3 separate regions of the Homo sapiens genome follow, and regions 1 and 3 are each linked to region 2. Evidence: fine-mapped expression QTL. A gene starts in region 2. Each other region holds a variant in brackets. All regions are shown on one strand. Distances are between the middles of the regions. Region 1 overlaps RAB40C (RAB40C, member RAS oncogene family). Region 2 holds the start of FBXL16 (F-box and leucine rich repeat protein 16). Region 3 holds the start of MSLN (mesothelin).

Region 1 (4,028 bases), 110 kb after region 2:
CTCCGGGAACTCAGGGCATAGCCCAGGACGCAGGTGCCACCTGAAGAGGCTCCAACATCAAGGGGGCCATGGGAGTCCCAAACCAAACAGGAAAGGAGTATGATGCCACAAGGGAACAAAACTTTGCAAATCCACGCTGACTGATGCCACGAGGGAACAAAACCTTGCGAATCCACGCTGACTGATGCCACGAGGGAACAAAACCTTGCGAATCCACGCTGACTGATGCCACGAGGGAACAAAACCTTGCGAATCCACGCTGACTGATGCCACGAGGGAACAAAACCTTGCGAATCCACGCTGACTGATGCCACGAGGGAACAAAACCTTGCGAATCCACGCTGACTGATGCCACGAGGGAACAAAACCTTGCGAATCCACGCTGACTGATGCCACGAGGGAACAAAACCTTGCGAATCCACGCTGACTGATGCCACGAGGGAACAAAACCTTGCGAATCCACGCTGACTGATGCCACGAGGGAACAAAACCTTGCGAATCCACGCTGACTGATGCCACAAGGGAACAAAACCTTGCTGAATCCACGCTGATTAATGCCACGAGGTAACAAAACCTTGCTGAATCCACGCTGACTGATGCCACGAGGGAACAAAACCTTGCTGAATCCACGCTGACAGTAGCGAACACCCACGGGTGTGCATTTTCACGTACATGCCTATCGACAGAAGCAGCCATGGCAGCAGCGCACACGGAGGAGGCACGGCGTGGCCCCAAGGGAAGCTGCCTCCTCCTTGCTGACCTGGTGAAGTGGGTCCTGCTGGCATCAGCTGACCTGGCGGCTCCTCTCAGGCAGGAATCAGGTGGGCGCAAGACTCTGCGGGCAGCCACTAGGGCTGTGGCCGGCCGACACGGGCAGGCATCAGCCTGACACTGCCTTGGCAGAGCCTGAGGACACAGACACCCCTCGGAGCAAAGCTGGTGGCACAGGCAGAGAAGGGTCTCCTGTCAGTGGCAGCTTCGGCCGGGGCCGGGGCCTGGGCTGTGACCATACTCCCCTCCCCTGCAGCAGTGACTTTCTGGACCGAAACACAGCACCTCGGCAACCCTGATCAGTGTCACTGTGTTTGTGTTCAGAGTCCTGAATCCTGATGTCATCTACCCTATTACCGCCCCTCCCAGCTAGGTCTGACACACAGGCTGTACCTGCTGTGCCCAGGTGGCCGACAACGTTGCTGACCAGGAAGTCAGGCGAAAGCCCAGCAGCAGCCGCCGGCCCCGGGCAGGGAAAGCAGCACACAGGCTCCCACCGGGTTACCCACGCTGCTGGAGCTGCTGGAGAGTGCTGTGCTTGACCGCCCGGCCTACACCTTCACTCAGGGTTGACATGAGGTTCTTACATCCGGCCGCTGTACAAACTGTAAAGTACCTGCCCATTTCCAGGACTCAGCTCTTCTCTTCTTCCATCCTCTTTTCTTTATTTTTTATTTTTTGAGACAGGGTCTCACTCTGTCACCCAGGCTGGAACGTAGTGCAACAGTCAGACTCACTGCAGCCACCACCTCCCAGGCTCCAGTGAGTTTCCCACCTCAGCCTCCCAAGTAATTGGGACTACAGACGTGCACCACCACACCCAGCTAATTTTCTTTTTTCTTTTTTTTTTTTTTTTTTTGTGAGACAGAGTCTCGCTCTGTCACCAAGCTGGAGTGCAGTGGCACAATCTCAGCTCTCTGCAACCTCCGCCACCCAGGTTCAAGCAATTCTCCTGCCTCAGCCTCCCAAGTAGTTGGGGCTACAGGTATGCGCCACCACGCCCGGCTAATTTTTGTAT[T/C]TGTATTTGTATTTTTTTTTTTTTTTGAGGTGGAGTCTCGCTCTGTCACCCAGGCTGGAGTCAGTGGCGTGATCTCGGCTCACTGCAAGCTCTGCCTCCTGGATTCACGCCATTCTCGTACCTCAGCCTCCCAAGTAGCTGGGACTACAGGTGCCCGCCACCATGCCCAGCTAATTTTTTGTATTTTTATAGAGACAGGGTTTCACCATGTTAGCCAGGATGGTCTTGATCTCCTGACCTCGTGATCCACCTGCCTTGGCCTCCCAAAGTGCTGGGATTACAAGCGTGAGCCACCATGCCTGGCCAATTTTTGTATTTTTAGTAGAGACGGGGTTTCATCATGTTGGCCAGGATGGTCTCAATCTCTTGACCTCGTGATTCACCCACCTTGGCCTCCCAAAGTGCTGGAATTACAGGTGTGAGCCACTGCACCCGGCCTTTTTTTTTTTTTTTTTTTTTTTTTTTGTAGAGATGGGGTCTCACTGTGTTGCCCAGGCTGGCCTCAAACTCCTGGGCTCCAGCACTCCGCCTACCTCGGCCTCCCAAGGTGCTGAGATTGCAGGTGTGAGCCACCGTGCCCAGCCCTCTGCTCTTTTCCAAAGATGCTGAGCTGGGCTGGGCACAGTGGCTCATGCCTGTAATTCCACCAACTTTGGGAAGCTGAGGCGGGCGGATTGCTTGAAGTCAGAAGTTCAAGACCAGCCTGGCCAACACAGCAAAACCTCTGTCTCTACTAAAAATGTAAAAAATTAGCCAGGTGTGGTGGTGCATGCCTGTAATCCCAGCTACTCAGGAGGCCAAGGCAGGAGAATCGCTTGAACCCATGAGGCTCAAGAGGTTGCAGCGAGCCAAGATAGTGCCATCGAACTACACCCTGGGTAACGGAGCAAGACTCTGTCTCAAAAAATAAAAATTAAAAAAAAAAAAAAGATGCTAGATGGCTGTCCCTCTCACAGGATGGGCATGTCTTTCATCAGGGTCAGTTTACACAGCCAGGACCACATCACCCATCCAGGATTCGAATCCTTCCCAGTTTGGTTTGAGGACTGTGTTCACTGTAAAGACGGCGAAGGCTGCTCAGGGGCCGAGTGCTTCTGTTTCCACTCTGCCATCTGGGAATATGGGACCAACTCTTCCCTTCACCCTTTCCACAACTCCAGGCCCCCCAGCACCAAGCCCTCTGTAAGCCATGGTCAGAAGACCCTTCCACATGCCCCTGCCACCACCCACCTCATCACCAGCACTAGAACCTGGCTGCTCCTGAGCCCCTCCCATCCCATCTTGCCTGGACCACCTCCCCCTGCTACCTACATGTGCAGCACCCTGGCGGTGTCTGGTCGTGCCCTGGTCTTCCGCCCCATACCCATGGGTCCCTACCTCTCCACAGCGCCAATGCCCTTGTCCCTCCGCTAATTTCTGAAGGACAAACGTCCAGAAATCTCTGCTTTACTCAAAATCCTGATCTCAGCACGAGACAGCCGCGCACTGCCTGTATCAGAGTGCGCCGCCATCCCCAGGTCGGCTCAGAAGCCTCCTCGCTACCTTAGGCTCAAAGTGCGAGTCCACCCTGCTGACATCTGTTTACCTTCACTGCCAAGAGGACTGAAGAGGCCCCTCTTCCACCCAGCTCCTGCCCTGAGGATGCCCACAGCCCATGGTCTTGGCAGCCAGTCCTTCTTCCCACAGCTGCTCCTCTTCCCACCGCCTTCGTAACTTCTGGTCCCTGACACCCGCCAGTTCCACAGTCTGCACATCCTTCTCCCGACCGCCCAGGAAGTCAGCTCAGCCTGACAAGCAGTCTCCCCGCCTTCTCACAGTGGTTCGGCAGCGTTCTCCGCACCAGGATGCTGGACGCCGACACCTTTCCCTGCTTACTCCAAACGCCCGGCGGATGACACCCTGGCTGACGTGGCCCCTGGGCCCCAGAACGGCCCTCGGTGGGGTGGCATCGTACCATGTGCTGCGCAGGGGAGGACTCAGCTGTGATGCAACCCCTTCCTGCTCTACGCCAGCTCGCAGGGGCTCCAGACCAGGGTAGGCGGCAGCTTTTCAGGGACCAGCAGCTTCGCGCCTTCTCAGCTGCAATCTTCAAATAGAACAAGAGGCAAAAGTACCTGCGAGGACCCAGATCCCTCCCTTGTGTCCTTCCCGCCCACCTCTCAGCTCCCCGATGTGGCTTCCTTCCTGAAACACTGTTCAATTTAGCTCATCGTGCAGGCCACAACACGTGTGCTCGACA
Region 2 (4,028 bases):
CACCGCTTTGGAGGAGCACGGTTGGCCTTTCTGTGATGATCTTCCACACACTCTTCCCTGCTCAGATTCCCCACAGGCAGGGCTAGCTTCTTGGGCCTCGCCAGGGTTGCATGACCCAAATGCCTGACTCCCACGCTCACCCTATGCACTTGGGGTGTGTCCAGCCCACCCTATGCACTTGGGGTGTGTCCAGCCTGCCCTGTGCGCTTGGGGTGTGTCCGGCTCCAGCCCCAGCTGGGACTCAACACAAGCACAGCTTGTTCTCTGCCTGAGGCCCTGGCACCTGCTGTGGTGAGAGCCCCAGGCACGAGGTGAAACCCTCCTACCGGGAGCAGTCCACGCCTGGGGTGGAAGCTGCTGCCAGAGGGCCAGCCTGCCAGACCATGCACCGGAGACACCCAGATAGGTTGGACCGCCGCTCCCCTGTTGCCCCAACTGTCTTCACGGGGCTCGTCCTGTCTGCCCCACTCCGGGCACCTTCTTTGGTCAGTATCCAGGTACCGGGCAAGACTTACGCAGAAGAGCTGCTGCGCTCACCCCAGGTAGACCCAGTGGCGCCCCCACAGCAAGCACAGAACCACCCCACCCCGGGACCCAGCCAGGGTGCCGTCAGTCTGACCCTCCTTCCCGCTGACCCCAGGCCTCACACCGGCCCCTTCGGCCAGGCTTCCCATCAGGACGCTGGGAACAGCAGCTGGTTTCACTCCTATTGAGATACTCTCAGGAGCCCCATTCAGCCCTGTAGCTCTTTCCCGGTGCAAAGAACCCCTCTGCTCTCCCCACACCTGCTCCCTCCCCCGGCCCTGCTCCCAGGAGACCCCAGGATAGGGCGCCATTGGCCTCCATTCTCCTGCCCTGAGCCTGCTGGGGCGTCTGGGGTCTCCAGCGGTCCCCACCGAGTCCTCCACCTAACCTAGCACGCCCCACCCCTGCCCCGGGCTGCAGCAGCCGCCGCCGCCTCCAGCCTCCAGTTTATTCCCGAGGGAACTTGCCAGGCTCCTCGGATCTTTGCACCCCCATTCCCGAGCCATCCCTCCCTCGCGCCGTGGGGGGGTCTCAGCTCCAGTGGGGCACCCTCAGGAAGCCCCCGCCAGAAGTCACCACCGCAAGCCCTCGGGTGCTTTCACTGTCACTGTCTGAACTGATCCGTGCAGTCACTTGTTTTCGCGCTCTGCGGGTGTGCCAGGGTCTCCAATGAGGGGCTTCCGGCCGGGCACGCAGCAGGTGCGCGGGGGGTGTGAGGGCTGTGAAGGGTCCTTGCCGTGGGCTGGGCGGGAGGGTCCAGAGACGGGGGTCTGACCACCCTGTCTCCTCTGGGCCGGGTCTCGCCTTCCTCGCCTCCCCAAGTGGTGGCCAAGGGCCGGGACGCGCGGTGCCGCCCCGGTCCCCATAGGACCCCGGACCCCTGGGCCACCCGCCGGCGCCTGCTCTCCCGCCTCCCCTCGCCCTCCCTTCTGCCTCCCGCGCCCTCCCCGCCCGCCGCGCGCCGGGGTTTGTTATTGTGCGGGTGCCCGCGGCGAGCGGGGCGGGGGCGCGTGCCGGGCCTGGCGCGTGCTCGTGGACGCCGTGCCGGGAGCGCGCCGCGCGCGGGGGCCGGGGCGGGGCGGGGGCGGGGCTCGGCATTCTCGGCGCCCCCGCCCGGGCTCGCGAACCCGGATTGGCTCGCCACGCCGGGAGCGCGCGAGGGCGCGGCGTTTGGTGCCGGGCGGGGGGCGCGCGCGGCGCCGGCGGCGGCCACGGAGGAGCGCGGGGAGGGCGAGGGGAGGAGGAGGCGCCCGCCTGGTTCCCTGCAAAGCGGCCTTATTTATCTGGGCACAGCCTCAGCCTCCCCGGTGGGAGGCTTGGGGCGGCCGATCCTCTCCCACCGGGGAGCTCCTTTCCGTGCGCTGCCGAGGGGGCCCGGCCAGGACGGGACGCGGGGCGCAGGGCGCGGCCGGGCCCTGCCGGCCAGTCCAGCACCCCGGCGGCCCCCGCGCGCCGACGCCCATGCCGGGCTCCCCATGACGGGAGGTCGCCCGGCGGACAGCGTGGCATGAGCCAGGAGCCCGGGCCGAGGTAAGGTGCGCGTGCGGCCGGGCTGCGGGGCCGGGAGGGGGCCAGGCCGCACCTCCGCGGCGGCCACAATGAGGAGGGGGCGGGGTGGGGGTGGGGGCCGCGCCGCCGCCGCCCGGGAAGGGCTTACGTAACGGCAGCCCCTTCCCCACCTCCCCCGCGGCCGCTGGGCCTCGGTCCCTGCCTGGCCTTCCCGCAGCCCCGCGCCCCGGCCCCTGGCCCGGAAGAGGGCCGCTCCCCACTGGCCACTCGGCCGGGGCTGGGGGTCCGTGCCTCCTGGGACGCCGAAAGGAGGAATTGTAGGCCCCCGGCCTCCACCCCGGGCGCCTGGTCGGCTCAGAGGGCGCCCCCGGACCGAAGTGACAGGCCAGAGACCGTTAAACTGCATGGGGGTCGCGTGGATGTGCGGCCTGAGGGGCGGCCCTCCCCGGGCGGGCGGCTTCTGGACCCGGGGCCTGCGCTGAGCTACTGCCCGCGGGAGGAGGAGGGTGGGGGGAGGCTGGCACCTTCCTGGTTCTGGAGGCGGGACCGGGCCTTGGCCAAGGTTGGAGGGCCTCAGAAGGGAAACGGCACCTTCAGACCTGCTCGGGAGGGGTCCGGTGTCCTCCTGGGGATTAGGTGGGTGGAGAGCGTTCCCCACCCATCACCTCAGGAGAGAGGGCTGCGGTGGCAGCTTCAGGAACTGACGGCCCAGCGGCCACTCCAGGCCCTTCCCAGGCTCCAGGCTCTGTTCGGGCAGCCTGCCCTCCGCAGGAGGAGCAGATGGCGGAGGCCACCTCACCTGCCTCTTCCTTCAGGCCCTTCCCCCACACCCGTGCATCCGAGGGCCCAATGGCCAGGGGCAGCTCAGGCCTCCCTGGACACAGGGCCGTCTCCCAGCCCACCCCCTCTGTGGGGTGCTGGACAGCAGCCTTGGAGCAGATAGGCCTGGGTCAGGCCAGGAGACTGAAGGGTTTTCTGTCTCCCGGACCAGGGCAGAGGCCTAGTGGAACCTGGCTGGTCTGGCCAGAGGTGGACACAGGGCTGGACCTGGAGCCGCCTGGAGGGGAGGGAAATTCAAGGCCCAGCTGCAAACATCGCTGTGTGGGGGAACCCTAGGACTCACTTGCCCCACTCCCTGCCCCCTGCCACCCCAACTGCCCCTCATCTGGGGCCAGACCCTTGAGTTCAGCCCCTCCATCGACAGACTCACTGCCTCCAGCTCACACCCACTTCCGGGGCGGCTGGACGAGTCCTACCTCCCACTGATGAGAAGGACACAAACAGCTTCCTGTGTGGGAGGCACGGGGCCCTTGAACCAGCTGGACATGGACCCAGGAAGCCTTGTGTTGCTGAGAGTTAGGGATCTCCCACCCAGGTGGCACTGTTCAGCCACCCGAAGACCCCATCTCCTTGCATGTGGGCACCCACTGCTGTGCCTCCCATGACTGGATTGGCAGTGAAGGGAGCTCTGTGGGTGAGCAGGTGACTGAGCCTTCCCCACCAGTGGTGCAGGAGGAGTCAACGGCCAAACTGGCTGCAATGTGTGGGTTCAGGCCTCATTCCTTCACTGGGCAGGAAAGAGGGGTGATGGTTAGTGGCAGCTGCCTGGAGCAGTAGGCACTAGGGGCCCAGGCCTCGCCTCTGAGGGTGCTCATGCTCTTCCGAGCAGGGGCTGAGATGAGGCCTGGATCCCAGCACCCACTCCCCAGGGTGTCCAGCTTTCAAGGCTGAGCTGCCCTGGGCTTGACCATGGGCCCTCAGTCTGCTGGGGCAGCAACACGGGTTTCTCTTGAGGCCACGTGCCTGCTGCGCCATGGTGCCCCTCCTCAGAGCCCCTGGTGCACCCCCAGAAGCATCTCAAACTGGGGGCGGGAGAGGAGCTCTGCCGCTGTGCCACGTGCCAAGTGGCAGGGACGCGGGTGTGCCTGCGTCACGGGGCTGCCACGGAATGTGTCAGTCTGCACCCTGTCCCCAATCCCCAGCCACCCCAGCTG
Region 3 (4,028 bases), 55 kb before region 2:
CCCTCTCCCAGAAGGGCAGGGCAGTGTGAGCAGAGCTTAGATCAAGCAACCGGGGCCGCCGCCCACTTGGGCTGGCCTGAGTCTCCCCACTCTCGCACAGGAGGACGAGCAGCCCCGTCGCCTGGATGTGGCTCCCTTCCCTCTCCCCTGCCCTCAGCTGCAGGTGCCTGGGCTTTGTGAACACCCCAGGCTCTGCCAGGCAGACAACACCCTTGAGGCAGGAGGGGCACTGCGGGCACAGAGGCCACCGCCCCTTCCCACCCAGCAGCGTCTTTTTGGGCCACTTGGCCTCTCTGAGCCCATTTTCAGGTGCAGTCCAGGTGGGGCGGGGCTGGGCCAGTGAGCAGCCTGGGGAGCCCCTTGTACTCTCTAGGGTGGGGCCTGTGGGCCACTGTGGGGTGGGGAAGTGGGTGGGGAGACCCTCCCTGAACAAGAATTGTCCTCCTGGGGTAGGGGTGGGGCTCGCAGAAGAGGGAACTGGCTTCTACACTCACCCCTTTCAGGGAGGCCACCATGGCGGAGTAGAATAGAGCTGCCTCCTGAAAACCTTGGCCCAGGCCCGGTGGGTCCACCCACAGCTCAGAAATGGGGGTCACACGCTCATGCTCAGCAGCCCCATCCACAGGCAGAGCCTGCCTGGTCGGCCCGGCCACTGGGGAATGTCGCGGGGAGGCACACAGCCTCCGGGTGACAGACTCTACTCCCCCAGGCCCCAGAGGAAGTGGGGAGGCCCCTGAGGCTCTGAACACCTTGAGAAGGTGGAAGAAAACAGACCCCCCCCACAGCCAGAAAATGGGCAGTGAGTGGGACCCCCAGCCCTTGGGGTGCGTGAAGCCAGGAGGGAAACGTGGCCATCGGATCACAGGGGACCTGGGCACTCCCCACCCCAGCTCCATGTGACCCAAGGACCTCAGCACCTGGGATGGGGGCTCCCCGAGAGCCCGGCCCTTCCTGCTCTGAGGGGCCTCTGCAGGCCATGGGGGGCCCTGGAATCTGCATCCTTTACACCTGCAGGAGAGCTGGGCTGGGGCCGTGGAGGCACCTGCACTGCCTTAGGACTGCCGCTTCCAAACAAATGGGTCTGCGTGTGCCCTGCGGGGTGAAATCTGCGTCCAGCTGAAGCCTGACCATCGCTCTGGTGCTGGAAGCCCGGCCTGGGGCGGCCCCAGTTCTCCAGATGGAAGGTGCAGATTCCATCCACACCACAACAGGAAGAGCTCAAAGGTTGTTACTTACAGATCCCAGGGAGGGAGGCACCGTGGGTCCACCGGTAGCTCTCTGTCCGCGCGTCACAGCAGACGGGAGTGGCCGGCCAGGCAGAAAGAGGAGTGCGTGGCGCTGGCAGCGCCCATGAGGAACAGGACAGCCCCTTTCAGATCGCGGGCCAATGCCCACACGTGGGCCTCTAAAGGGCGATGTGAAAGGGGAAGCCCAGCCCCCAGGCCTCTGAGGCCTTCTGCGCAGTTGGGTAGGGAGCTTTACCCCTAACGCCCGGGCAGCCCCCAGCCCTCCAGGTCCCGAGTGGCCCCTCCCAGGTCTCAGTGGGCCCTGCCCAGGGTAACTCTGATGTGCAGGGTGATTGGCCACACCTGAGCCTCCTCTGCCTCGGTTTCCTCAATTGGGAAGTGGGGGTGGAGAGCCTGGCAGCCTCCCGGGCCGTCAAAGGGAACAAATGACGGCTTTGCCCGGGGCAGCAGGGAGTGGTGGCGCCTCACGCCCCAGGAATGTGTGGGTGGAGACCCCGCACAGGAGCCTTGGACAGGCAGCGGGCCAGGCCTGGGGGAGGAGGGATGCCCAGGAAGGCAAAGCTGCCCTCG[G/T]TGGGCGAGGGTGGGAGCCCGGGCCCAGGTTTCACGGCTGCCCTGGGTGGGTGTGGGGCATGTGTAGGAGCCCGGGCCCAGGTTTCATGGCTTCCCTGGGTGGGTGTGGGGCGTGGGTGGGAGCCTGGGCCCAGGTTTCACGGGATCCCACTCTGATTCTCAGGTGCTGAAACCCAGGGAGCACTGGCCCCCCCAGTCGCAGGTCAGCAGGCTCTGGATGGTGGCCACGCAGCCCAGACAGGACTCCCGGGAGCACAAGCCTGACCCCCAGTGCAGTGTGGGCCTCGCAAGGCTGTGAGCCGTCCGTCTCAGGGCTGTGGGAGCACACAGGTCAGGGAGGCAGGACGGGGCCCAGCTCCAGGCACACGCACACCCCTTTCTCGCAGGGTCGACTGGAACAGAGCTGCCCCCGGGCGCTCTCTGGCCTGGCGAAGTGGGAGCTGTCTTCCCTACGCATCTGGGCTGGCTGCCTGCTGCTGATGGAAGAGCTGCTCCTCCTGACCTGGGGCCACAGAAGCCCCCTCCCTGCCCCTGAAACCCCTCCCAGCATGTCGTGAGCTCTTATCCCCAGTACGGAATCTGCCTCCGCTATGAACACCTGCAAAGGTTTGTGTGCTGAACGGAGGTGTGCGCGGCGGTCATCTCTGGTCTCTCCACAGAGTGGGTTTTCTATCGTGACTCGCGGTGGAATCGGACCTTCACGCACACAGAATTCAGCAAGGCTGCCAGGTGTAAGCGTCAACTTACAAATGTCAAGAAGGGATTAAGGGCCTTTTAAAAACTCCCTTCCGCAGAGAACAACTGAAAAATTCCAGACACTCTTGTAGCAAACCAGTTACCCAAGGGCTCTGGGGAGGGGACAGAAGGCAGCCGGCTTGGGCGGGAACTCACAGGTAAAGGGAGAGGCCAGCTCCGAGTGGCGTTCCCTTTGTGTCCACACAGCTTTGCTCTGAAGGAGCCGCAGGTTGGCTGCGGGGCTGTGAAGTGGCCCAGGCTGCCACGGACACCCACAACTTTCCCGGCCAAAGGCCAAAGGAAACCAAGGAAGGAGCCCAGAATACTCAGGGCCCAGAGCTCGAGGAGAGGCCTGAGCCGGAGGAGCCAAGGAGGCGCCCACGTGCCCAGCTGAGCCCTGAACTGAAGGAGCCGAGGAGGGTCCAGGAAGAGCTCGGAGGGCCCCGTAGACACGGCTGAGCCCTGAACAGGAGCCTCAGAGGGGCCCATGTGCCCGGCTAAGCTCTGAACCAGCCGACTGCAAGCTGCGGACAATGATGAAAACGCGCTGTGGCCAGCCTGGGCTCACCCTTCAGCCAGCACCGTGGGAGGCCGATGCGGGAGGGTCCGTTGAGGCCAGAAGTTCAAGACCAGCCTGGGCAACGTAGTGACACCTCATCTCTATAAAGAATCTTTAAATGAGGCCCTGTGTGGTGGCGCACGCCTGTCATCCCAGCACTTTGGTAGGCCGAGGTGGGCGGATCACCTGAGGTCAGGAGTTCGAGACCAGCCTGGCCAACATGGAGGAACCCCGTTTCTACTAAAAATATGAAAATTAACTGGGCGTGGTGGCACATGCCTGTAATCCTAGTTACTCAGGAGGCTGAGGCAGAAGAATCACTTGAACCCAGGAGGTAGGGGTTGCAGTGAGTCGAGATCACGCCACTGCACTCCAGCCTGGGCAACAGAGCAAGACCCTGTCTCAAAAAAAAAAAAAAAAAAAAAAAAAATGCCGGGCGCAGTGACTCACGCCTGTAATCCCAGCACTTTTGGAGGCCGAGGCAGGCAGATCATGAGGTCAGGAGATCGAGACCATCTTGGCTAACACGGTGAAACCCCGTCTCTACTAAAAATACAAAAAATTAGCCGGGCGTGGTGGCGGGCGCCTGTAGTCCCAGCTACTCGGGAGGCTGAGGCAGGAGAATGGCGTGAACCCGGGAGGCAGAGCTTACAGTGAGCCGAGATGGCACCACTGCACTCCAGCCTGGGCAACAGAGCGAGACTCCATCTCAAAAAAAAAAAAAAAAAAAAAAAAGCCCAGGCGTGGTGGCTCACGCCTGTAATCCCAGCACTTTGGGAGGCCGAGGTGGATCATGAGGTCAAGAGATCAAGACCATCCTGGCCAACATGATGAAACCCCGTCTCTACTGAAAAAAAAAAGAAAGAAAGAAAGAAGAAAAATAAGAATATCTGTGTGATTTTTTTTTTTTCTGAGAC

Evidence for each region. PIP is the estimated chance that this variant, and not a neighbour inherited with it, causes the effect. A credible set is the group of variants that fine-mapping cannot tell apart.
Region 1: its variant is the best candidate, but not a certain one, in a credible set for the expression of FBXL16 in whole blood (TOPMed, PIP 0.65).
Region 3: its variant is the best candidate, but not a certain one, in a credible set for the expression of FBXL16 in lung (TOPMed, PIP 0.74).

The regions. Positions count from the first base shown.
Region 1 is chr16:596,164-600,191 of GRCh38, reverse strand. The region is part of intron 1 of RAB40C (RAB40C, member RAS oncogene family); the gene reads right to left. Among named protein-coding and RNA genes, the nearest start is that of RAB40C, 8.1 kb to the right of the region's middle. RefSeq lists an enhancer at 110-611. The variant T/C (reference allele first, on the strand shown) is at 1,790.
Region 2 is chr16:703,539-707,566 of GRCh38, reverse strand. It overlaps FBXL16 (F-box and leucine rich repeat protein 16), which reads left to right and starts at 1,766. Exons shown (of 6, transcript NM_153350.4): 1 at 1,766-2,055. RefSeq lists enhancers at 1-560, 561-1,177 and a silencer at 466-682.
Region 3 is chr16:758,383-762,410 of GRCh38, reverse strand. It overlaps MSLN (mesothelin), which reads right to left and starts at 1,677. Exons shown (of 18, transcript NM_005823.6): 1 at 1,590-1,677; 2 at 1,237-1,338. RefSeq lists enhancers at 1,721-1,739, 1,905-2,430 and promoters at 1,721-1,739, 1,261-1,741, 1,247-3,096. The variant G/T (reference allele first, on the strand shown) is at 1,818.